2 separate regions of the Homo sapiens genome follow, and region 2 is linked to region 1. A link means that fine-mapping ties the variant in region 1 to the expression of a gene that starts in the linked region. Tissue or cell type: spinal cord. Region 1 holds a variant in brackets; the other region holds the start of a gene. All regions are shown on one strand. Distances are between the middles of the regions.

Region 1 (12,138 bases):
GCTCCTAGTGAGTAAAGTGAGTTCTGTGTACTTGAACCTACTCTTTGGTTCCATATTAATTTTATTTAGTTATACTGTTTTACCCTTATTTGTTATTTCTGTTGTATGTTGCCACTTGTTACCAGTGGGAAAAGAGTCTAAAAAATATCAGAAGGGAGTGTGTGCTTGCTTCAGGAGGAATAGCAGGGTAATGGAGAAACTGGGACAGAAATCTGTTCCTCCATTGCCCAAGTAGCCAGAGAAAAGACGGGCTGGCACAGTGAGTGGTGGCAAAGAAAGGAGGCTGGTGGGCGAGCCCTTCGTCCCTCTGCAATAAAGTGGGGACAGACCATTAAGGGGAGACCCTCAGAGTCCCTCTTCCCACACTGTGGCAACCTGTGCCCAAGTCCTTTTTCTCACCTGATTGGGTGTCCTGGTTTCCATAGCTCTGTGTATGTGGGGAGAGGGAGAAGTGTAATCCCACTGCCAGGGTTGTGTCAGGAGAAAGTATGTTCTTGGAATTCTTAAACAGGAACCCTGATTCTCCTGGGAAACACGGCTAAACATGCTGCTTAGGACAGTACTCATGGGACAGGATATGAGTTAAAGTGGCTCATGTAAGCTGGTCTACTGTAGTGTGTATGCTTGTTTTAGAGCTGCAAGTAATCCACTTATAGGCATTGGAATCTGGCCCGTTCATCACCTGAGAGATGTTTTCTTTCTTTCTTTTTTTTTTTTTTTTTTTTTTTTTTAGACGGAGTCTCATTCTGTCACCCAGGCTGGAGTGCAATGGCATGGTCTCAGCTCACTGCAACTTCCGCCTCTTGGGTTCAAGTGATTCTCCCTCTTCAGCCTCCTGAGTAGCTGGGACTACAGGCGCATGCCACCACACCCAGCTAATTTTTGTATTTTTAGTAAAGATGAGGTTTCACTGTGTTGGCCAGGCTGGTCTTGAACACCTGATCTCGTGATCTGCCAGCCTCGGCCTCACAAAGTGCTGGGATTACAGGTGTGAGCCACCGCGCCCAGCTGAGAGATGTTTTCTAATGATGGAAATTACCTGTATACATAGGCTTCTTCTTCCTTCTTCTTAATTTTTTTTTTTGACAATGTCTCACCCTATCACCCAGGCTGTTGCCCAGGCTGGAGTACAGTGGTGCAATCTCGGCTCACTGCAACCTTTGCCTCCCGGGTTCAAGCGATCCTCCCACCTCAGCCTCCTAAGTAGCTGGGACCACAGGCATGTGCCACCATGCCCAGCTCGTTTTTTGTATTTTTGGTAGAGACAGGGTTTTGTCATGTTGTCAGGCTGGTCTTGAACTCCTGGCCTCAAGTGATCCACCCACCTCAGCCTCCCAAAGTTATAAATACCTTCTGATGTATCCAAAGAAAAAGCTTTTGTAAACGTGTCCCAACAACTAGTGCTTGGAGGAATTAATAGTAGAAACTCTGAGAGACCAAAGTACTTTCAAAAGACAAATGCTACAATTAGTTCTTAGACATTTAGGAAAATTAGAATGGGGGCTTGAACTGGGTAAGATTTCGTGAGAACTCAGCTCTGACCTGTTTACATATGTGGGGTTTTAACAGTCACTGGGTTTGGTTGAGCCTAAGAAGAAGGGAATGGAAAATGCTCTTGGAGGTGTGGTCCAGGTCATGAGCTCTGGAGTGAGATAGACTTGGGCTTACTTACCAGCTCGACTGTGTTTTAGCTGGTGACATTGGACCCCAGTCTGTTTTCTCATTCATAAAGTGGGAATAGTAACATTATTTATGGATTGTTGTGCAGAATACTTACACTATGTTGAAGCAACTCCAGATTTTCCAGATAGCAATAATGGAGGGAAAATCATTGCATTAGAAGATCTTGTTTTGAAACCAAACATGTTGTTTTACTTAGATTGATTATTTAGGGAAAGCTGGTAGAGATTGTGGGGAATGTTAATATGTCTCCCAAGCTATTCTTGTTGCTTTTACTTTGTGAAGTGCTAACATATAGGGCCTGGTGTGTAGAAAACCTGCAGTCAATGACAGCTTGTTGTTATTTCTTGTGAACACAATTGAGATCATCTAGTGTATACACTGAAAATCTTTTATTTTTCACTTTTTACATTACTAATTTTTTTATGTTATTAAATGCCCTTTAAAAATGATCATATTCAGTGACTATATATACAATTATCTGTTTCTGTATTATTCTCATTGTGGGACTTTTAGGCTATTTCCAACATTTTTCTTATAACTCGTGAAGTATATCTTTGTCTGAACTTATGGCTCAATTCTTGCAAGGGGAGAGGCAATTCTGTTTTAACTATGGTTGTCAATGGCAAGTCTGAGTCAGAATCTGATGCCACAACCATCCTAGGCCCAGCTACCATGCTCTGTTGTTTGTCATTGACCTGTTTGTTTCTCAGGCTTCGGAGACCTGTGAAGTTACCTCATTTTGGTTCCGTTGGGCCTCAAGTGCAGAGTAAGTGCTTGTTAAAGGTTTGTGGAGATAAATTGAGGATAAAAGTTTTGGGGTTGCAAAGAGGTTTGAGAACTGCCAGTCCATGTTCTCCTTCTCTATGTTGTAACTATTTTTAAGTGCTAGGGAATGGGGTATATAAAAGACAATATGATCTCTTCCCTCACGAAGCTTATTATCTAGTTGAGAAGGTCACACTAGTGGAAAGTAAATAATTAGAGAAGTTAGTCAAGTCATATAATGGCAACTAAAAGTCTGATGAGGAGTTTAGAACTAGCAGAAAATTCTTACTGCTATAGACTCATCAGAGAGGGCTTCATGGAGGAAGTGAAGTGAGGCAGGTTTTAGGATTTAGCTATTCATAGAGAGAGAGGGTCTGTGGGATTTTGGGCAGGAGCACCAGCATGAGCAAAGGAGCAGGAGTGGGAATGAGTGTGGGACATGAGAGGGCACGGTATGCACATTTGGGGGAGCAGAAGGAAATAGCATTAGGGGCTAGGCAGGGTGGGGCCACATTCAGGAGGGCTGGAAGCCAAACAGTTGAGAAGCATAATAAGAAATAAAGAGTCTTTGTAGGTTTATGAGTGACATGAGGAAAGTGGTTGAACTGGAAATTCAAAGGTGGTGTCAGAAATATTGCTCCGAAAAGGTCATTTATAAGTACACAGATATTTGGCAGTAATAATATGTTATACATCTGGAATCCTTTAAAGCTTCCACAGATCTCACTTAATCCTTGTATGTCCAGGAGTGGCCAATGATTATTATCCCCAATTTACAGATGGGGAAACTGAGCTTTCAAGTGGTTGAGTGACCTCTCAGTATCACACAGTTAGAAAACGGGCAGATGGAGGAACCCAAATCTCCTCATTCCTGGACCATTGGTTTTTCAGTGATGCCTCAGGGTGCAAGGGACACATCTTCCATTGTTAAGGGAACTACTTCTTGGAAAGAAAGATGCCGTCAGTGTGTAGTTAATGTGTATCAGGTACTTTACATACATTTGGCATCATCAGCCTAATGGTCTTGTAGCTGTTGGTCAATAGCTCTATTTTACAGATAAGGAAACTGAGGCTTAAGGAGGTTAAACAACTTGCCCAGCGCCACACATCCAGTTAGAGGCAGAGTGAGGGGCCCTGCTCCAAGTGTGCATGACTGTTTCTTGCCTTGGTTCTTCCCACACCTGACACTTGGGCACACTGCAGCTACTTCTACTTCTTGCTTTGCTCAGCGATGTGAGGGGTTGATTTTCAGGTTACATATACAAAATTAAATTATTTTGGAATGAGTTCAAAGCAAGTGTCTTGGCTGAATATTACACCGTATTTTATGGAGGTGTCTGTATATCGAGTATATTGAGTGAATATTAGTAATTTCAAGAAACTAATTAGGAAAAGCAGAAGTTTGATCTCTGGTAGGAGTTTGAGGATATATGCTTATGCTTCTTCTAAGGCTCTCTTAACTTCGGGATGGAGATTCCTGTCCTCAGTGCAGCATGCAAGGTGCCTAGTGAGGAGACCCTTGCTTATGTCTCTCGTCTCAGCTTCTGCCTCCTTGTGTCTTGCACATAGCTACATGGAAGGAATATCAACTCCTGCACAGAGTTTCACATGTTCTCTGTGCTCCATGCATGTGCTGGAAGGTGCTGAAATGTGCCTCCTCTCTATAGCCCCTATCTGTCCTTCCCTTTAGCCTAGCTAACTGTGTTCATCCATCAAAACTAAGCACAACATCCAGTCTCCTCTGGGCTTCCCCTACAGCTCCTTTCCAGCCCTTGGACCAGGTTTGGCATTCCTGCCCTCTGTTCCCCCCCGTCATGGCACTTCTACTCTGTGTTTTCCAGGAAGATAGCACAGAGGTGGAAGTGTATATGTGGTATGCAGGGATACTCAATCGGCCACCCTGGGTAGAATGAGTTTGCATAGAAAAGGTGTATGAAAGAAAGGGGCCTCAGTCATAGAGTGCTTCAGCCATTTTGGGTGCAAACAACATAAATAGACTTTTTGGTGTCTAAATATCACCCTAACTTCTCTCCTTAAGTTAGGGTGCTTAAGTTATTATCTGCTTAAGAGTGGACCCCTGCTTAAGCATCCTAGTCATGTACCAGCCCCTGGCTGCACTGGGGCAGGGAGAGGGACAATGAAATCCCATTGGCTTCTGTAAGGACAATGGGATCCTACTTCCTGTCAGTGCTATTCACAATGGGGGATTTCCCCAGAAGGGAGATCCAGGTGCTAGCAGAAAAAAGGGAAGGATGCCAGACAACCAGAACCCCATAAATGTCTGCTCTGGAGAAACCAGGAAGGAAGCATGGCCTGAGGCACTCGAGGGGCTCTCAACACCAGCCTCAAATGGCAGGTACAGGGAGAGGCCTTTCCTCTCTAGGAGCCACTGAGAGATTGGCAGTAGGGGAGTGGGCTAGGCACCCAGAGCAGCATTTTTAGAAGCTGAATCTTTAGTCGTGGGCCTCATGGCCTGGAGAGAGCTGGGGCTGAAAGTCTGAAAGTGGGGGGACCAGTCAGGAGATTAGTGTCTGTGTGCAGTAAACACGGAACCAGAAATCTGGAATTCACCATGAGTCATTAGCAGATGGGGATTAGAACTCATTGACCTTGGGGAAGTCATCAGACTTTTCTTGCCTCAGGTGAACACAGTGGCATAATTATGCTGGCCCACCCAGTGAAATGCTGCCAGAATGAACTCAGTCATCTCTTTCATCCAGATACAGATTCATCATGGTGTCAGGTTTAGCTCATTGCTTGTTTCTACCCCTTGTGTGTCTGATCATTTTCTAGTTACCACTCCTTTTTTTTCTGAAATGAAAAGTCAAGGCATGTGAAAACCTGACGTTCACAGTAATCTAAGCACATCCTTGCTCTGTCAGGGAGAGATTCTGCCTCCAGATGGTGCATTCATCTGGTCTTTGGCATGTTCTGAGCCAGGATTTAGACAAAATGAAAGGTTGTTTGAATACTAATGTAAAATCTCATTGGGCAAGGAAAACTGTCTATTTGGATTATGAATAGAATCTGTACAGTGGCCTATTCACTTCA[A/G]TGTTAATTGTCACCATTTAGTGGAGCTGGACAGCATTTAGAAAATGAGGAATAACGCCTTCAACAAAGCTCTTTTCATGGACAGCTTTTACAATGTGCTCAATTCTATGGCTCTTGAACAAAAGTCCATATTTTCTCCTTGGGTTTGTCATGCTCTGAGCTTGCACAACAACTAGGAGTTTGGCCTAACTATGGTTCACAGGTCAACATGTTTAACCTTTATGTGGAGACTTACAAGAGTGACAGCTTCTTGGTAGTTTTTAATGATTTTTGACCTGTTTAATATTGTGTTTTATCTTGAGAAATTATTTCTACATATCCTTACATTGGAACTGTACTTCACAGAGACCTTTAACACATTATCTCCTTTTATCTGCATAGGCCCATGCAAGAGAACTCCTGGTATCTTAGTCTAATTTCCAGTGGGGTTTGTAAGAAGAGGGTTAAAATTGCTCTGTCCTTAACACTAAGAATAGAATTTCATTGTCCCTTTATTTGAGTAGCTCATAGTATTTTATACACACTAATTCATTAACCCTCAACAAAGTTCTGTGTGTAGGCAGTGGAAAATATTCTTTTCCCTGTGGCAGTATTTACACATTGAGAAACCAAGTCACGAGGCACAGCAGGGTTGGGCTGGTCCACAGGGAGCCAGGGGTAATTTGGGCCGCCCAGTTCTTAGTCTAGCCCTCTTCCTTGACCATTAGAAAACCTGAACATGTTTTTCTTTGGAAAATAATCATGATTTCCAAAGAAAATAGCCCTGAAGGCCAAATTCTACCCGGAGAACTGAACTGTAAAAGGGAAGAGTTTGGGGGCGGTTTTCTCACAAAATGGTTGATGTGGTTTCATTTTCTTATGTTGTCACTAAGTGTTTTGTCTGCTGTAGCCAGGAACCAGATGGTCAACATGGCAGTATGTTTTTGTTTCTAAGAACCAGTTTTTGAATGTCCCCATCTTGTTTTGCTGCTGATACCTTTCCAAGTGTCAGATGAGCAAGGCAGCACCTGCTGTTCCAGCTCAGGCTCTGCAATAGGTGCCGAAAAGCCTCCCTTCTTCCCTTCTCAGATTTCAACATCCTTAAGGGCGAGAATGGTCTCTAATCTTCCTCCTTTTTACCTCTTTTCTTGTTCCTACGTGTGCTTTGGCAAGAGAGTACCTCAGTAAAGGATTTGGTGGGCAGAATAAAGCCCAGATCTGTATATCTTGGTATCCAGGAGGCAGCTCGCCACATGTGGACACCTCAAACTTACTGAGTTACTGATTTCCATCCAAAACAGAATTCCTGGTTTCCTTTCCCAAATCTGTACCATCTGTGTCATTCCCTATCTCTGCTAGTGGCAATTTCATTATTTTCTCAGACGTCAAACTTGGGAGATTTTTGTCTCTCTTTCTTTCATATCCCACTGCCAAATTGTCAGGAAATCCTATTGGCTCTCCCTTCAGAATATAGCCAGTTACTTCTCACCAGCACTTTGCTACCCTCAAATCTCAGACACCATCATCTCTTCCCTAGATTATGGCAACTGCATCTAAGCACATCCTCCTGCATCTACCCTTGATCCCTCTTAGTCTGCCTGTGACTATTGTCAGAATGATCCTGTTTGTGTGTCTGTCAGATTATGTCACTCAGCTCAGAACCCTCAAATGGATCCTCTGCATACTCAGAAGAAAAGTCAACGTCCTTAGGAGGACCTACAAGGCCTTGCATAATAGATCCTTCATTTTCCTCTGTGTCTTCATCTTCTATTACTCTCCACTTCACTCTGCTGCAGACATACTGGCCTTCTTGCTGCTCCTATAAAAAGAATGTTGGAGGCTGGGCGCGGTGGCTCATGCCTGTAATCTTAGCACTTTGGGAGGCCGAGGTGGGTGGATCACGAGGTCAGGAGATGGAGACCATCCTGGCTAACATGGTGAAATCCTGTCTCTACTAAAAAATATATAAAAAATTAGCCAGGCATGGTGGCGGGCACGTGTAGTCCCAGCTACTTGGGAGTCTGAGGCAGGAGAAAGGGGAGAACCTGGGAGGCAGAGTTTGCAGTGAGCCGAGATTGCGCCACTGCTCTCTAGCCTGGGTGACAGAGCAAGACTCCGTCCCAAAAAAAAAAAAAAAAAAAAAAGAATGTTGGACTCTTCAATTGCATGTTTCATATTTCTTAGCATCTCTTTCCCATTTTTCACCTTCTCTAGCTCTGTGCTATATTCTGGGTAATTTCCAAGATTCAAATTCCAATATATTACTGACATTTTCACTTTTCTTCTTTGCTTTTTAACTTGTCCAGTGAAATTTCATACACGATACTTTTATTTTTAGGAGTTCTGTCTGGTTCTTTGTCAAGTTGGCCTGTTCCTTTCTGATGCTTTGAGTTATTTTTTAACATCTTTATTTAAACATAGTTATTTTACAAAATATTCGATCAGTCTATCATTTGAAGTTCTAAAGGGCCTGTTGTTTGTACTGTCTTTTTCATGATGGATAGTTTTGTCAAGTGTTTCATAATATTGAATGGTGAGCCTATGTCCAATGAAACTTTAACTGGGGGAGTCCTGTAATTGTGAGTTAACCCCAAATGCATTACCAGTATGGAACCATTTTATATGTTAATTTTTCAGTTAAAGGGCTCCAGGGAACCCTTCTTTCCTCACTCATCAAAGACTTAGGCTGAGACCAGAAACATTTCTTGTTTTTTCCTTTGGCTACTGGTCATATTTTTCTATTATCATTATTTGAATAAAGACATGGCCCTTTGGGGGTACTGCCTTATTTAGTTCTAACTCCTTACCACACATGGGCAAGATGTCTCCCCTTCCCTCAGTAGCCATTAAACCCAATCTTCTGGGCTGCTGAGACCATTAAAACACTTCAGGCAAAGATTCTTCGTAGGACATCACTCTGTTTTTCAATGAGTCTTTATTTTATGACTTTGGGAGTGCTCCCTTGCTTTCTTGGGAGAGCGCAACTATGCATTTAAGTAATTCTGAAACAGAGTCCATCCAATGCTTCAAGCAATAAGGTTCTCATGTTATTCAATCCATTATTTGGGTAGAAAGGAAGTCCTTTTTTTAAAAAAAAAAAAAACTCAATTAACAAATCTTTATCAAGTCCTTCTGCAAGCTCACCCTGCCCACTCCTGGCAGGATTAGTCCCTCTCCTGTCACCCCATTTCTTCTCTTTACTCTAATGTTCATTACCTGGCATTGGCTGTTTCGCCCTGTGCTTCTTCTGATAGACTAAGAATTCCTGATGGCAGAGACCTGTCTTACTCACCTTAGAATTTCCAGTGCCAAGCACAGGGTAGAAGGGGAGGGTAACACTGAAAAGGGAGGATTTGAACACACCAGAGAAGAAGGGACTATTGTAGGCACACAGTCCCTCAGCTATTAGGAATGAATGGGATTCGGCCACAAGAGGAAGGAGAAGAGATGGATGGAGGGAATAGATGCAGAGCCAGAAAGGAAGAGTTTCAAAGGCCTAACCTGTGACCAGTTGATGAAAAATGTTGATTTCAAAGTAGAGAGTGATATCTTCTGTTCAGAGTGAGGTGGGATCTTAAGGATGGAGGAAAACTGAAAGCACCACTGTGGTTCTTTTAAAAAAAATATTGCAGTTAGGTGTAACTGAATTGGCAGAACATAACCTGGTGTGAGCTCATGACAGAGAATTGTACAGTGGATTTAGTCTAGCATTGGTATTATAGACTATCTAGCAATAAATCACTGATTATAATTGAGTTTTGCTAGGCACATTCCACATCTGGGGAATTTTGCATAGTATCTGTGTTTTACTAGGTGCTCTGTACATTCTCATCTGAAATGAGTTTTTCTTCACAAATGTGTAATATAAATGTATAGACCACATACCTAGACAGGTCTGTGATGCATGCAGGTACACACACACACACACACACACACACACACACACACACACACACCACACTCACAGGCAGGGGACTGTATATTTCTTGTAACTTGGCTAATAGGCCTGCTTGCCCCAAACTCTGTATACTGACTGCCTTCTGTGTTCCCATCTTTGAGTCAGTGTTCTGAATCAAGGTATAGGCTGCTGGTAGGAAAGATCAAGATTTTAAACTCATTACTACTCACTGTCATATTAACTTGGGTTATATCACTGAGTTAATTAACTATCACGTAGTACAGAATATGAACTTAAAGCACTAGTGAACAAGATAGGTAAAAGTTTGTTATGTCACTTTGGGAGGCCGAGGCAGACAGATCACGAGGTCAGGAGATCAAGACCATCCTGGCTAACACGGTGAAACCCCGTCTCTACTAAAAATACAAAAAATTAGCTGGGCATGGTGGCGGGCACCTGTAGCCCCAGCTACTTGGGAGGCTGAGGCAGGAGAATGGTGTGAACCCAGGAGGTGGAGGTTGCAGTGAGCCGAGATCGGCCACTGCACTCCAGCCTGGGTGACAGAGCAAGACTCCGTCTCAAAAAAAAAAAAAAAGTTTGTTATGTGTTTGTGAGTGCATGTACATGTGTATGTTGGTAGTGGGGTTAAGATGAACTAAAAGTTAGTCCTATTAATGTGATGAAAAAGTACTGATTAAGTAATGACCTTATACAGGCATATCTTGAAGATATTACAATTTCAGTTCCACATCACCACAATAAAGGAAATATTGCAATAAAATGAGTCACATGAGGTTTTTGGTTTTCCAGTGCATATAAAATTTATGTTTAAATTATACTGTAGTCTATTAGGAATACAATAGCACTATGTCTAAAAAATGTAAATACCTAATTAAAAATACTTTATTGCCAAAAAATGCTAAGGATCATCTGAGCCTTTAGTAAGTCAATTTTTTTTTTTCTGGTAGAGAGTCTTGCCTTGATGTTGATGGCTGCTGACTGATCAGTTTGGTGGTTGCTGAAGGTTGGGGTGGCTCTTTAAAATAAGACAGTCATGAAGTTTGCTGCATTGATTGACTCTTCCTTTCATGAAAGATTTCTCTGTAGCATGTGATGCTGTTTGAAATAGCATTTTATTCATGGTAATACTTCTTTCAAATCTGGAGTCAATCCTCTTAACTTTGCCTATGCCTTATAAACTAAGTTTATGTAATATTCTAAATTTTTTGTTGTCTTTTCAACAACGTTCACAGCATCTTCACTAGGAGTAGTTTCCATATCAAGAAACCACTTTCTTTGCTCATCCATAATAAGCAACTCTTCATCCACTCAAGTTTGATCATGAGATTGCAGCAGTTCAGTCCCATCTTATCGCTCCACTTCCAATTCTAATTCTCTTGCTGTTTCCATCATATCAGTAGTTATTTCCTTCACTGAAGCCTTGGACCCCTCAAACCCTCATCCACGTCATCCACGAGGGTTGGAATCAACTTCTTTCAAATTCCTGTTAATGTTGCTATCTTGACCTCCCATGAATCACAAATGTCCTTAATGACATCTAGAATGGTGAATTCTTTCCAGAGGATTTTCAGTTTACTTTGCTCAGATCCATCAGATTAATCATTATTTATGGCAACTGTACTTACAAAATGCATTTCTTAAATAATAAGACTTGAAAGTCAAAATTACTCGTTGATCCTTGGGCTGCAGAATTAATATTATGTTGACAGGCATAAAAACAACATTAATCTCCTTGTACATCTCCATCAGAGCTCTTGGGTTACCAGGTACATTGTCAGTGAGCAGTAATATTTTGAAAGAAATCTGTTTTCTGAGCAGTAGGTCTCAATAATGGCCTTAAGATATTCAGTAAACCATGCTGTAGGAAGATGTACTGTCATCCAGGCTTTGTTGTTCTGTTTATAGAGCACAAGCAGAGTAGATTTAGCATACTTCCTAAGGGCCCTAGGACTTTTGGAATGGTAAATGAGCATCGGCTTCAACTTCAAGTCACCAGCTGTATTAGTTCCTAATGAGAGAGTCAGCCTGTCCTTTGAAGCTTTTAAGCTAGGCATTGACACCTCCTCCTTACCTATGAAAGTCCTAGATTACATCTTTTTCCAAAAAAAGGTTGTTTTGTCCACACTGAAAATCTGTTGTTTACTGTAGCCACCTTCATCAATGATCTTAGCCAGATTGGCTGGATAACTTGCTGCAGAGTCTACATCAGAACTTGCTTCCCTTGCACTTTGATGTTCTGGAGATGGCTTCTTAAACCTCATGAACCAACCTCTGATAGTTTCCAACTTTTCTTTTGCAGCTTCTTTACCTCTCTTAGCCTTCATACAATGGAAGAGTTAGGGCTTTGCTCTGGATTAGGCTTTAGCTTAAGGGAATGTTGTATCTAGTTTGATCTTCTATCCACACCACTCAAACTTTCTCCGTATCAGCAATAAGGCTGTTTCACTTTCTTATCATTCGTGTGTTCCTGGAGAAGTACTTTTAATTTCTTTCAATAACTTTTCCTTCACATTCACACCTTGACTGTTTGGCACAAGAGGCCTGCTTTCAGCTATCTTGGCTTTTGATGTGCCTTTCTCACTAAGCTCAATAATTTCTTGCTTTTGATTTGAAGTGAGAGACATGCAACTCTTCCTTTCACCTGAACACTTAGAGGCCATTGTAGGGTTATTAATTGGCCTAATTTCAATATTGTGTCTCAGGGAATAGGAAAGGCCCAAGGAGAGAGGCAGAGAAGAGGG
Region 2 (12,138 bases), 30 kb before region 1:
TGACTAGCTGTCCATCTTTGAGGGAGGAGTATCCAGGCGTCTGTGGTTTTTAAAATTCCCTGGGTTATTCTGAAACAGTTCCAGTTCCATATTTTGGCTATTAATGGTGCTGCAGTAAACATGGGAATGCAGATATCTCTTTGATATATCGATTTTCTTTCTTTTGGATATATACCCAGCAATGGGATTACAGGATCATATGGAAGTTCTATTTTTAGTTTTTTGAGGAACCTCCGTACTGCTCTCCATAGTGGTGGATATACAAATTTACATTCCCACCAATAGTGTATGAGGGTTCTCCTTTCTCCACATCCTCAGCTGCATCTGTTACTGCCTGTCTTTTTGATACAAGCCATTTTAACTGAGATGAGATGATACTGCCTTGTGGTTTTGATTTGTATTTCTCTGAAGGTTCCAAACTTAGTTCTTGGGTTATATGTTATGAGCAGTCAAATATATCTGAATGAATTTTAAAAAGACTTAGTTAAAATATTTATATATAATCTTTTTGAGGGGTGGGAAACTGATTCATACCAATTTTATTTATAGATTTTCCTGTCTTTTCCCTTCCTTTGCCCGCCCTTTGTAAATAGAAAAACAGGATCTTGATCCTCTTTAATGAATAATAGCTGTCCAAAGCTATACGTGCATTTTGCAGCTTCCAGATGACATCATGTTCAGAACATGAGAGCTTCATTCTCACCATCTGTCATGTCACCAGAAGTCTTAAATATAATTACAGCCCATGTGACAGTTGCACACCCATTATTTCCCACATGTATTATCAGTGACTAGTTGCAGCACCCTAATTAAAATGGTGTTAGTGTCTCAATTATCAACTCTGTTTTTTAAGGGTTTTTATTATATAACTATGAAAACTTGCTCTGGGCTGAGATTTAACATGTTTATGTCAGTGTTCAGCAGGTGTTAGAGGACTGGAGAAATCCTAGATTTTGAGTTGTTCTGCACACCTGAGCACTCTGGTGGTGCGCCTGGAAACAAAACTGCTGACTAATGGAAGATTTATAGACAAACCATGCATTTGGAACATTATCCAGCTGGCCTGCCTTGTACAGTTATGTCCTGGAGATCAAAAAGGGGCCTTTGAGTTGTTTTAAAATTTAAGAAGTTGGCTACAACTTGAGGATACCTGGAGCCATTTTGGCAAGAAAAAGCAGTGATCTAAATATTCACTTTCTGAGATGAAGATTGTTCTAGATCCTAAGAAAAACCTCTGCAGTTACTAGCCCTTCACAAGTCAAAAAGGTCTGGCTCTCTGAAAGGCCAGGAGATATAGCCAAAAGGTGATTTCCTAGAAATTTTGGTTTGGAAGGTTTAGAAAGGAGCAGAGTAACTGATTGTCTATGTAGCTGTGGATCGGTTGACAGGTGGAAAGAAAAAAATGTGTCTGGGCTAGAGTCTAAATACTTCCCAAACTACCCTTGTGTTTCAGGATGTTCAGGAAGGGTGGTTCCCTCTCTACCCAAAGCCCTTTGAAACAGGACTGTGCAACAGAACTTTCTCTGATGATGGAAATATTCTTGATCTGTGCTGTCCAATGGGAACATGTGGCTATTGAGCACTCAGTATGTGGCTACTGCAATGAGGAAATGAATTTTTCATTTTACTTAATTTTAATAAATTTAAATGCCACATGAGGCTAATAGTTACCATAGTGGATAGTGAAAGAGTCAGTAATTTTTGTTGGGGTTACTGCATTGAACAGTGACAATGGTGATGTCCTTTAGCTACAAATGGCCACATCTCAGTATTTAGGAACTGAATAGAATTGGTGTTTCCTATAAAATGGAATCTCTTTATTATATTTTCCTCTTTTCAGAGTGAATCCCCTGAGAAGTTCTTGAGGTATGGTCCTGGCTCTAGCGGGTAAAAAATTGCACCTAAAAGAAGGTCAGGCCTGGCGCAGTGCTCACACCTGTAATCCCAGCACTTTGGGAGTTGGAGGCAGAAGCGGGAGGACTGAGGATTGCTGGACGCCAGGAGTTTGAGACCAACCTGGGCAATATAGGGAGACCCCGTCTCAACAAAAATAAATAAATAGCCAGGTATGTGGCACATGCCTGTGGTCCCAGCTACTTGGGAGGCTGAGGTGGGAGGATTATTTGGGCCTGGGAATTGAGGCTGCAGTGAGGTGCAGCTGCACCACTTTATTCCAGCCTGAGTGACAGAGTGAGACCCTGTCTCAAAAAAAAAAAAAAAAGGTCAATATGCAAAGGAAGGGTCTCAATAATGTGAATCTCTAGAGACTGGCTCTGGAGGTGGAGTAAATCTCTAGTGATAGAATTTTAGACCCTAAGGAATCAGCTGAAAAGAAACAATGTTTTGTCAATGGAGCATCCCCAGTGTTTCCAAATTGCACACGTGGAAAGTGTTGAACTCTTCATAATTATTGGGCTGGCTCCACTCAAAAGGCGTATTTATAATTTCCCCAATATCTTCCTTTTGCTCATGTAAATACCAACATGAAAATATCAGCCACAATGAGTTCCATGTGCTTTCCTAAAAATACCTGAGACTAATATGGACTTCAAGAACATAGCTGCATTATGACTTTTGTAGGATCTGGGCACTTTTGCCTTCATACGCACCTTCCTCCAGAAAAATAAAAATGTAGATAAAAAGAAAAATTATATTTCACTATTGCATTGTTATAGATACAAATATATTAATATTATATGCTAAAACATTTTCTTTGACCTAAAAGTTCATTTTTCTCTTCTGATTTTAAAAGAAATTAAAATATTTTTTGGCCCCTATAAGTATTATAGACCCTAGGCACTGAGCTTGCTATACCTGACAGGTAAGTTGCCCCTTTAGGGAAGACCTCATACTGAAAACTGGCTAAAAACAACCTATTATTTTCTTCAAAGATTGCAAAATATTAATTTTTTGCATAGTTGGTGCTCAATAAATATCAGTTGATTAAAAATATTCAGAGATGTTAAGACTTCTCCTGTAACAAATCTGAATATTTCTCTCTAAATCTATTATTTCGCTCCTCAGAGTATGGTCCACAGACCAGTAGCCTCAGCCCCAACTCAAACTTATCAGAAATGAAGAATATCAGACTCCATCTGCTACTAAGTCAGAATTTGCATTTTAACAAGATCCCCAAGTGACTCATATGCAGATTACACGGAAGCCCTGCTCACCTGCAATTTAAACCTGATGGTTTAACATTGGAAATGGAAGAGCTGATTCCCCTTAACCACATATAATTGAGTGCGATCCTCACCCTCCTCCAGTGTCAATACATTCAGTTCCTTTAGTCCAGTGGTTCCCAACTTTGGTTGAACATTGGAATCACCTGGAGAGCTTTCAAAAAACGACCAATAACATGGGCCCAATTTTCTGGAGATTCCGAATGATTGATCAGGTGGGCGTTCTGGGAATCAAGATTGTTTTAAAGCTTCCCAGGTGATGCTAATGTGTAGCCAGAATGAGAACTACTGTGTGGATTTCCCCATGAGATCTGTCCCCTGGTTTTAATAATGTTGGCCTCTTTTCTCTGTGTTCTCCGACCTTCCTAGGCTGGACAACCAAGTTTATAATCCAGAAATAGTTTCTTGTCTTGGGGTCTGCCATGCCCTATTAATTATCTCAAAGCTCTGAAGTGTTCTCCTAATACAACCATACACTAAAAGATTAACTGCCACTATTTTCCACATCCTTATTATGTGTCCTGTAATCACTTTCAGTCACGTAATCCTCACAATGATAGTATATGCTGTTCTTATGCCCATTATACAGATGAGGAAATGGAGGCTTAGAAAGGTTGTATCTTCCCAAGATCATCCTATTTGTATTCCAGAGTTTGTTCACCTCCTATTAAATCTACCATTTTCTAGTATCTTGCTTTCACTTAAGAAACACTAGTAATTCCCTAACTCACGTGGCTAAACATCAGATTTACAATTATCCAATTTTTGAGAATTATTGACAAAGGAAATATAATGAAGGCCAGGAAATAATTAAATAGATAATATAATTAGCAGTGGTTATAATTCATTAAAGTTTGAAAATGGTGACATTTTTCTTCTTGCATAATGGATGTGATAGTTCAATTAAAAAACAAATACTAAATACTCCAGAAATGCCCTGTGTTGGGACTGTGAAGATTACAGGGGTAAGGAACAGGTTTTGTCCTTGAATTTCAAGTTGAAGGGAGGATAAGAGCCTACAGTTGTCCAACATGTGACAGTTAATATAATCAGGTGCTACACTGTGTAGTAAGGCCATTATGCTTTGCCAAAATTCAGAGGGTAGCAGAAACCAGGACAATGTAAGGATTTATGGAGGAGGTCTATCTGGAGTGAAGTATGTAAGGATGAATGGGGATTGAATCTCTAGAAAAGACAGAGCTGAGCTAGGACATTGGCATAATACTCACTAGGCAGTTAGAATTTCCCTAACTGAATGGCCAGCCTGGTTTCTTGCTGGCTGAATGTCCCTTGTCTGTAGAGAATATATAGTCTTTGAATTCAAAACAAATGCTGTCCCAGCCAAGCTTAGTGCCAGCAATGTCCTGAGTGACCTATATCTGGAGCAGTGAAATCAATCAGGTGCAAAGGGTTATTTACACAACTGATAGCTTCCTGCCTCAGATAGTCACGGCTTCTTTTAAGGTTGCTGAAGCAAACACTTTGCTTAATATTTGAACCTAGAGAAGTTGAAAGCCAAGTACGTATTTAAATATTGATCAAGCTCAGGGCTTGAGAGCAGGCAAGAAAACTGCAGCTAGCATTGTATGTCCTTGGGTGGTGAGAGTTTCACAATTACTAGTTTTGCTGGTTTCTTTTTAGTGGGGAAGGGGCTTGGGGGTAACTTCTTATAATATTTGTTCCTCTTTCCACATTTTTTTGTTTTTTAAAAAAAGATACATACCTGCCAGAATTAAAAAAAAAAAAAAAAGAAAAAGAGGGCTTCAGTACTAGTGATATGAAAAAGGACAATAACAACAAAGGCTTCTAACACATCACCATGTTTATTCACCAGAGTTTGGAAACCATTTTTGTCTGGCATGTTGATTCAGTTAATCTTCAGTTCAAGTGATTCTCCTGCCTCAGCCTCTCGAGTAGCTGGGATTACAGGCACGCACCAACACACCCAGCTAAATTGTGTGTTTTTGTGGAGACGGGGTTTCACCATGTTGTCCAGGCTGGTCTCGAGCTCCTGACCTCAGGTGATCCACCCGCCTCAGCCTCCCAAAGTGCTGGGATTACAGGTGTGAGCCACCACGCCCTGCTCAAAATTTTTTCTATTTTTGAAAAGAATATTATTGCTTTTATTTTTATCTTGTGTACCTTGACACTGGGCAGGATATATATATATATTTTTTTTTTCTTTTTTTTTTTTTGTGGCAGCGCCTGAGGCCAGGCCTTGAGTTCACAGCTCTGTGGGGCTGAGGGTGGAATCAGCTGGGATGACAGCCCAGGTCAGGAGTGCAATGCCAGTGTTGGGGTCCCTTTCCCAAGGCGGAATTGCAGCCTTTGCCTTGGAACAGGGCTAAGGCATTCAGACACACGATGGTCTTTCTCTTGCTAATCTCAGCCTTTCTCAGCATTCGTATCAGCAAGGTGGGCTGGGGAAGGTGGCGGCTGGAAGGGAGACAGAAAAGGCCCAGGCCCAGGAGAAGTGGTGGTGGCAGCCTGGGAGCTGGGCTCCATTCTGGCTTGGGATCTTGGTGGCCAGCTTCCTCGGGCCACACCTTTGTTATGGTTCTGTGCGTAGCCAGTCTTCAAAGGAAAAACAAAGCAGAGACTCAAGGTGATTTTATAAATTTTATTAGAAACTTTATATTTCAATACTAATTTCCTTACAAATAGTCTTAACTATAACACTTACTGCCACAGCAGTCTCAGATGGGCAATTTTACCTTTAAAGCTGCAATAATGGTCTTAAGTCTGTATATGAGAGCCTGGCTGATGAAGAGGCTTGGCTTCTGCTCTTGGGGCTGTCATCACATCTAAGAGGAAAACTGCTTTGGAGGATAAGGAAGTCCCTTCACATTGCTGTTCATTGTAAAAGTGGTTATGGTTTTCATACGTTTTTGAATTAAGACTTGCAGCCACTTGCGTGCATAAACGTGAAGGGAATCGCAGCTTGCAAAGCTCTCGGCCAGGGAACATGAGCTTCAAATAAGAGGGCAAATGCTGTTTTTAAAAATAATATTTCCTATTGTAATAGACCCGGGCCGTATTATGTCACGGGTGTGGTGGCTTTTGGCTGGGAACAGCCTGAGCCTCCCTCGGGCCTGGCACAACTCCTTTCGCGAGCGGGCAGCCCAGCGCCTCCCTCGGGAGGCGCCAAGGCGTGGGGGCGCCCGGGGCGCAACTGGCACTCCTGTGGCCCGCCAGGTCCGCGCCAGCCTCCGCGCCTCCGATCTCCGGAGGCCAACGGCCGCAGCCCCGCAGCGGGAGGGGGCTGGCGGAGACAGCGCGGTAGGGGCAGCTTCAGGTTTCCTCCTGGAGCCGGTGTCGGGCGCGGCCGGCGGGCGGGCCTCGCCATGTGATGCGGCCGCCGCGAGCCGGGCCGGGAGGTGGGCAGGCGGGGATCCAGTGGCAGCGGGGAGGCGCGGGGGGAGCGGGGGGAGCGGGGGCGGCACCCGCTGCTGGCGCAGCCAGCCGGGCCCGGGCGCGCGGCCGCGGCTCCACCCCCTAAACCTTGGCTTCAGCCCGGCCGCCGCCAGGCGTTGGCATCGCCGGGGAGAGCCTTCCGGACTCCGGGCGGCGGCTGGCTGGGGGCGCGTTCCGAGGCGCCCTCAGGCAGGGCGCGGGGGCAGAGCCTCGCCTGGGTTCTGGAGGCTGCGGGGCCATCGCTCCAGGTAAATGCTCTTTGGGACTCCATCGTCTGCGTTTCCCTGCAGCTCTGGGCGGAAAAGTTTGTCCACCTGAGTTCGCATCCGCAGGGCCACTTTCTCCAGGGTCCCCAGGGATGCGAGGGTCAGCAGAGGTGACCGGGGAACCGCTGCAGGCGCTGCGGCGCGAGGGCTGGGCGCCGCCTCCCGCTCCCTCGGGAGCGGCAACAAGTGGAGAGGGCGGCGCAGCCTCGTGCGGCGGCGGCAGCTGCGGAGCGCGGGGTCGCTCGGGCGCACTGAGAGCCGGGGGCTGGGCGGGTGAAAGCCCCGCCAGTGTCCTTCGGGAGACAGGGAAATAAACAGCACTCCTGCGGTGGAGAAGGGAGAACGTCGAGAGTTGGTGTCCGCCCTTCCCATCCATGCTTCAGCTCCGGGACTGAGGGTGCTTGGCAGGGCCAGGACCGCAGAATGCAGACGGAACGCAAGCTCAGGACACACGCACTACCACTTACTCGTGTGGAAGCATCTGCTGTGTTTCAAAAGGCATTTATGGTTACCTTGGTTGGGAAAGGTGGTCAGAATTATGTGGGACTCCTTACGCTTATTTTATGGATTTGTTTCCCCTTAAATACCCGGGGTGTATGTGGTGGTGCCCCAGCCTTCCCGTGCTTAGGTTTTCCGAATGACAGGCCGGTGTTTGGCCAAGAAAGCACCATTTGGGTCGAGGGCTGTATGGAAACTGGGTGCTCAGGCGGCCCTGGATACCCAGCTTTGGTTTCCCAGAGACCAGTTAGATTTCTAAGAAAGAATCCATCTCTATAGGCCCACAGCGTCCCCGCATTGGTTGGCTGGGTGGGCCGAGGAACAGTGGCAACATCTGTGTTTGTGCGGCTTCTCCCGCCTTGACCCCTGCCTGGGTATCCACACATCTCCTCACACCAGGAGTTATAGAGGTTCACCACGGACCACACCAATTGGGCAAAATCCAAAGAAAGTAAGATCTTTAATTTTCGTTTATAAAGAACTGATCATTTGGGGTTCCATGGGGCCCCTGGCTTTCTGAAGCGTTGTTATCTTGTGTTCCTAGGCCCTGAAGCTGTCAGGTGTAAGTGAAATCCTGTTTTCACTGCAAAAACAAATCAAGGACCTACCCTTGTTAGGTTCTGTGGCATCTACTTTGTACATGACAATCCAAGCGTAGTGATGACTTCTGGGAAACCTGGGAAGGTTTCTCTAGATCTGTCCTGGGTTTTTAGTTACACATTCCTAAAGCACATGGGTATTTGCCTAATCTTGATTAATAGCCAAAGTAACCCCTTTGGAGTATTTGCAGAAAAGAGATGAATATGGCAAAACCCTTTGGAATTTTTAATACAACATAGTATTTCAATGTAATGTTCTGATGTGGACTCTATATGTGATTATTGGGCTGATTAACTTTGATCAAATAGGAATTTGGCTAGCATCAGATCTTATAGCTAATGGTTAGGGAAACTGAGGCTCAGAGCTAGCTATAGAGTGTGTGACTCAGATGAATGTCTTGGGTAATGGGAGAATGGAGAACAGAGAATCAGTGTTTGTCCTGCTTTTGACTTTTTTTTTTTCCTTATCAAAACCACACAATCTGGCCAACTAAGAACAGGTTGTATAGCAGGCGTGTCATTAGACTTTCCTCTGAAGTACCCAACTGTCCTTTAAGCAGTTTATAAACACTTAAAGGTAAAGAAGAAAAATAGTAGTTAATAACTAAGTTTCTATGAAATGTCTCAGAAGCCTCACTTGGGTGGGTTTCATACTTTTTTTTTTTAATTATGTGAGTACTGCAGAAGAGTTTGGAATGTTTTCTTATTGTGTTCTTATAAGAAACTACACTTGTGGCTAAGACTTAAATTGGGCAGGAATTTCAGGTGAGCTCTGATACATGACCTCCTTTAGTATGCCCCGTGAGAAAAGACTATGTGTTCTAAGTAGGTATTAAAACAAATTGCAGCATATACTATTACTTCTATATTAAACATTCTGTACACCACTATATTGGTACCCAAGCTCCAACAAGTCCTGCCAGTTTATGACCAAGGACTGAATTCCAAGAAAAAAAGATTCATGATATAAATGTTGGAAAAGCCTCACCACTTGGGCATGGCTAGGATGGTACTGAACAGAGCCTAAATTACCTAGGCTGACTATAATTTTATTATGCTTTTATTTACTAATCAGATATGACAGATCTGGTTTGTGTAGGTTTTGTGTAATTGCATTTGTATTTATGTTGCTTTTAGTGAAGCAGAGTAGCTCTGGGATCCCCCCACCGGCCCCCGCCCATAACCTTAAATAAGATTTGTTATGAAGAGGTGGGTCAACCTGGGCAACTCCTACTGAGGATGTAAAAACAGTGTTACATTTGAAGTGCACCAAATTCAGGGAATTCTGCCATGCTAAAGTTGTGCTGTAAATATGCCACCCTGTCAGACTTGAGTCCACATCTCTACTTAGGCAAAGCTGGGCTTTGAGATATTTTTCTTGCTTAAGAAGTGTAGGTCAGGTCCTGTATCACAGAGCATTTTGCTCCATTTGTATGATACTCTGCCATTTTGTCCAGTCTCTGTGACCCTTAGTTCTTTTGTTATTATCATGGTATTGGAAGTTCTCGGAAGCCCAAGGCAGTGTCACTCTACTATTTTGCCATTTTGACAATCTCTATTATGGGGCTCTCTTTCTATGAACATGTTCTTCATTTACATTCATTCAACTAATATTTGTTGAAGTCTTACTATGTGCCCAGCACTGCTCTTTGCTTTGATTCTCTGATCTTTGGATTCCGTGTTGAAGGTGACACTTTTCTGGCTTTAGAGTTTTTAGGGTCTGTTGCATTTTCGGAGTAGACTTTTGCACACTCCACATTAAGACATTTGGCTGGCCAGGGTGGGGGTGGTGGCTCATGCACATAACCCCAACACTTTGAGAGGCTGAAGTGGGAGGATTGCTTGAGCCCAGGAGTTCAAGACCAGCCTGGGCAACATGGCAAAACCCTGTCTCTACAAAAAAAATACAAAAACTAGCCAGGCATGGTGGTGTGTGGTGTGTGCCTATAGTCCCAGCTACTTGAGAGGCAGAGTGGGGAGGATAGCTTGAGTTGGGGAAGTAGAGGCTGCAGTGAGCTGAGATGGTGCCACCACATTTCCAGTCTGGGTGACAGAAAAAGACTCTGTCTCAAAAAAAAAAAAAAATTAAAGACATTTGACTGGCAAAATAAGTCATGTAACTTATTTTTTTAATGTGATAGTGCATCTTCTTAATTGACTTCCATTTTTCCCTTGAAATTTGATCTCAGGCACAATAGTAATTTGCTTATTTGTAACATTATTGCTCCTGGACTTCTTCTCCTGGATAACCAAGATAATGAGATCTGACATCATTTTTTAATGAGAGAAAGTAAAAAAGTATATAATTGAATAGTGGGCATTTGTTCCAGTGATACTGGTTTTGAACACTTGTATAAAAATGTATTTTAATTTTCAGAGGTGTTTTCTCTTGTTTTAGTTTAATCTTTCCCTCAATTATAAATAACTCGAGGTCTGATTTCTGTAGAAAGTTAACATACAAGCGATGTTCTCTTAAGAGCAGATGAAAATGTGTCTATGAGTGAGGACCAACAGGCAGAAATCAGCAGTGGTGGCTTTGCTCTCCATAGTAGCCTGTTCAGAAGAGACCTTTCCAAAGCCAGCAGGCAAATAGCATTCTGCCTATTTCTAGTGGCAAGCTTTGTGTGACTGCTGTGCACATGATCATTGTGCCTTTAAAAAATATACACTTGAAATGTTAATATGCTTCAAATATATATAATAGACATTCCCTTAATAAATAGATGAAGCGTATATTGTATATATTAATGACATTTATGGTTTAGCTTTTCAATTCATTATCAAACACTAGTGACCATGCCCTTTCTGTTTAAGACTTACTCCTTTTCTTCCATCATTTTATAATTCAAGAAATTATATTTCATAAACTCTCATGAAGGGGGTTAGAATGTGGACTTTGGAGCCAGACTGTCTGGGTTAAATAGCCCCAACTTTGCCCTGGCTATGTGACCTCTCTCTACCTCAGGTTTTTCCATTTGTAAAATGCGGATAATAATAGTAACCTGCTTCAACTGTTGTGAGGACTCCGTGATTTAATTTACAGAGAACCCTCCTGGTAGTGCCTGACAGAGAGTAAGTTGTAGTTATAGCAAATGGAAAATAACCATTTAAAAAGGATAAAAGGGTAGCAGGTTTTTCAGCTTTCAGAAGGTAGTGAGATGTCAGTGTGACCCCAGGAGAAATTGCCCTAGGCTGGGAGTTGGAGGAAGGGATGGAGTCCTCTGGCTTTCCAGTTTTGTGACCTTGGGTGAATATTCCTACTGGAACCCTATCTGGTCCCAGTTTCCTCATCCAGTAAAATGGAAAGGATTAGACTGGATGACCTCTAAGAGCAACCCATTTTTTAACATTCTACTCAGTCTTGATGAATTGAATGTGAATGTGATGTATTTGTCAATTTGCTTTACTTGTCTTGGTCAACACTACTGGAAAGGTACTGTCTAAAAGGTTAGCATTGTGCCTGCAATAGGCATTTGAATAGATGATGAGCTGTCACTCTTATTCCTTATCTCTCCTTGACTACCAGACAGTCATCAGGTTTAAATGACTTGGAGTTATCTTCCTGGACTTAGTCCAAAGAGATTTCAGACATGCAAGTCCAGATTCCTTGTGTGGGCCATATGGCTGCCCTAGTCCTCTTCTTCTGAAGAACCCCTCATGTAGAAGAGGGGTGGTATAGCTCTGGAAAGAGGAAAGACAAGTGGGCTGACTGTTTAATTTTATGATAAAAATAATTTCTATCAGGCAAAGAAGTCTCATGAAGGACTTTTAAGTATGGTGAAAAGCAAGAGGTTTCATTGGGCTGGATGGTTCAGACAAAGTCCCTCGGGGGCTTATATTTTTGTCTTTTCCCACTAAGACCCTGATTTACTGTCTGTACATTGTCACTGGTTCTTTTTCAACAGTGCTTCTCCTTTTCTTGCTTCACCAGCCTCCTGGTTTGCTGTATGATCAGGTGTTAGAGTTCTGAAAGGTAGAGGATATTCAGTGATTAATGAGACTACTGACTATGGGTTCTTTACTTTGAGCCTCTAACCCAGGATTTCAAGCCCTGTTGTTCACTGGAACCACCTGGGTTCAGAATCTCTCAAGTGGACCTGGCATCATTTTCTAAAGAGGTGATTCTAATGTACAGCTGGGTTTGATAGCTACTTTCCTAATCTTTAGGTGTTTCTGGCT

Direction of the effects. Positions count from the first base shown, and alleles are read on the strand shown. Sizes are in standard deviations (SD) of each study's normalised expression.
With allele G in place of A in region 1, the expression in spinal cord of the gene that starts at base 6,718 in region 2 is lower (moderate effect, 0.59 SD a copy in GTEx).

The links.
Region 2: ARHGEF28 starts here. The variant in region 1 is fine-mapped to the expression of ARHGEF28 in spinal cord (GTEx, PIP above 0.99).

Annotation. Positions count from the first base shown.
Region 1 is chr5:73,649,573-73,661,710 of GRCh38, forward strand. All of the region lies in intron 1 of ARHGEF28 (Rho guanine nucleotide exchange factor 28), which reads left to right. Among named protein-coding and RNA genes, the nearest start is that of ARHGEF28, 29 kb to the left of the region's middle. The variant A/G (reference allele first, on the strand shown) is at 5,500.
Region 2 is chr5:73,619,479-73,631,616 of GRCh38, forward strand. ARHGEF28 (Rho guanine nucleotide exchange factor 28) reads left to right here and starts at 6,718. Exons shown (of 36, transcript NM_001177693.2): 1 at 6,718-6,844. RefSeq lists a silencer at 6,427-6,516.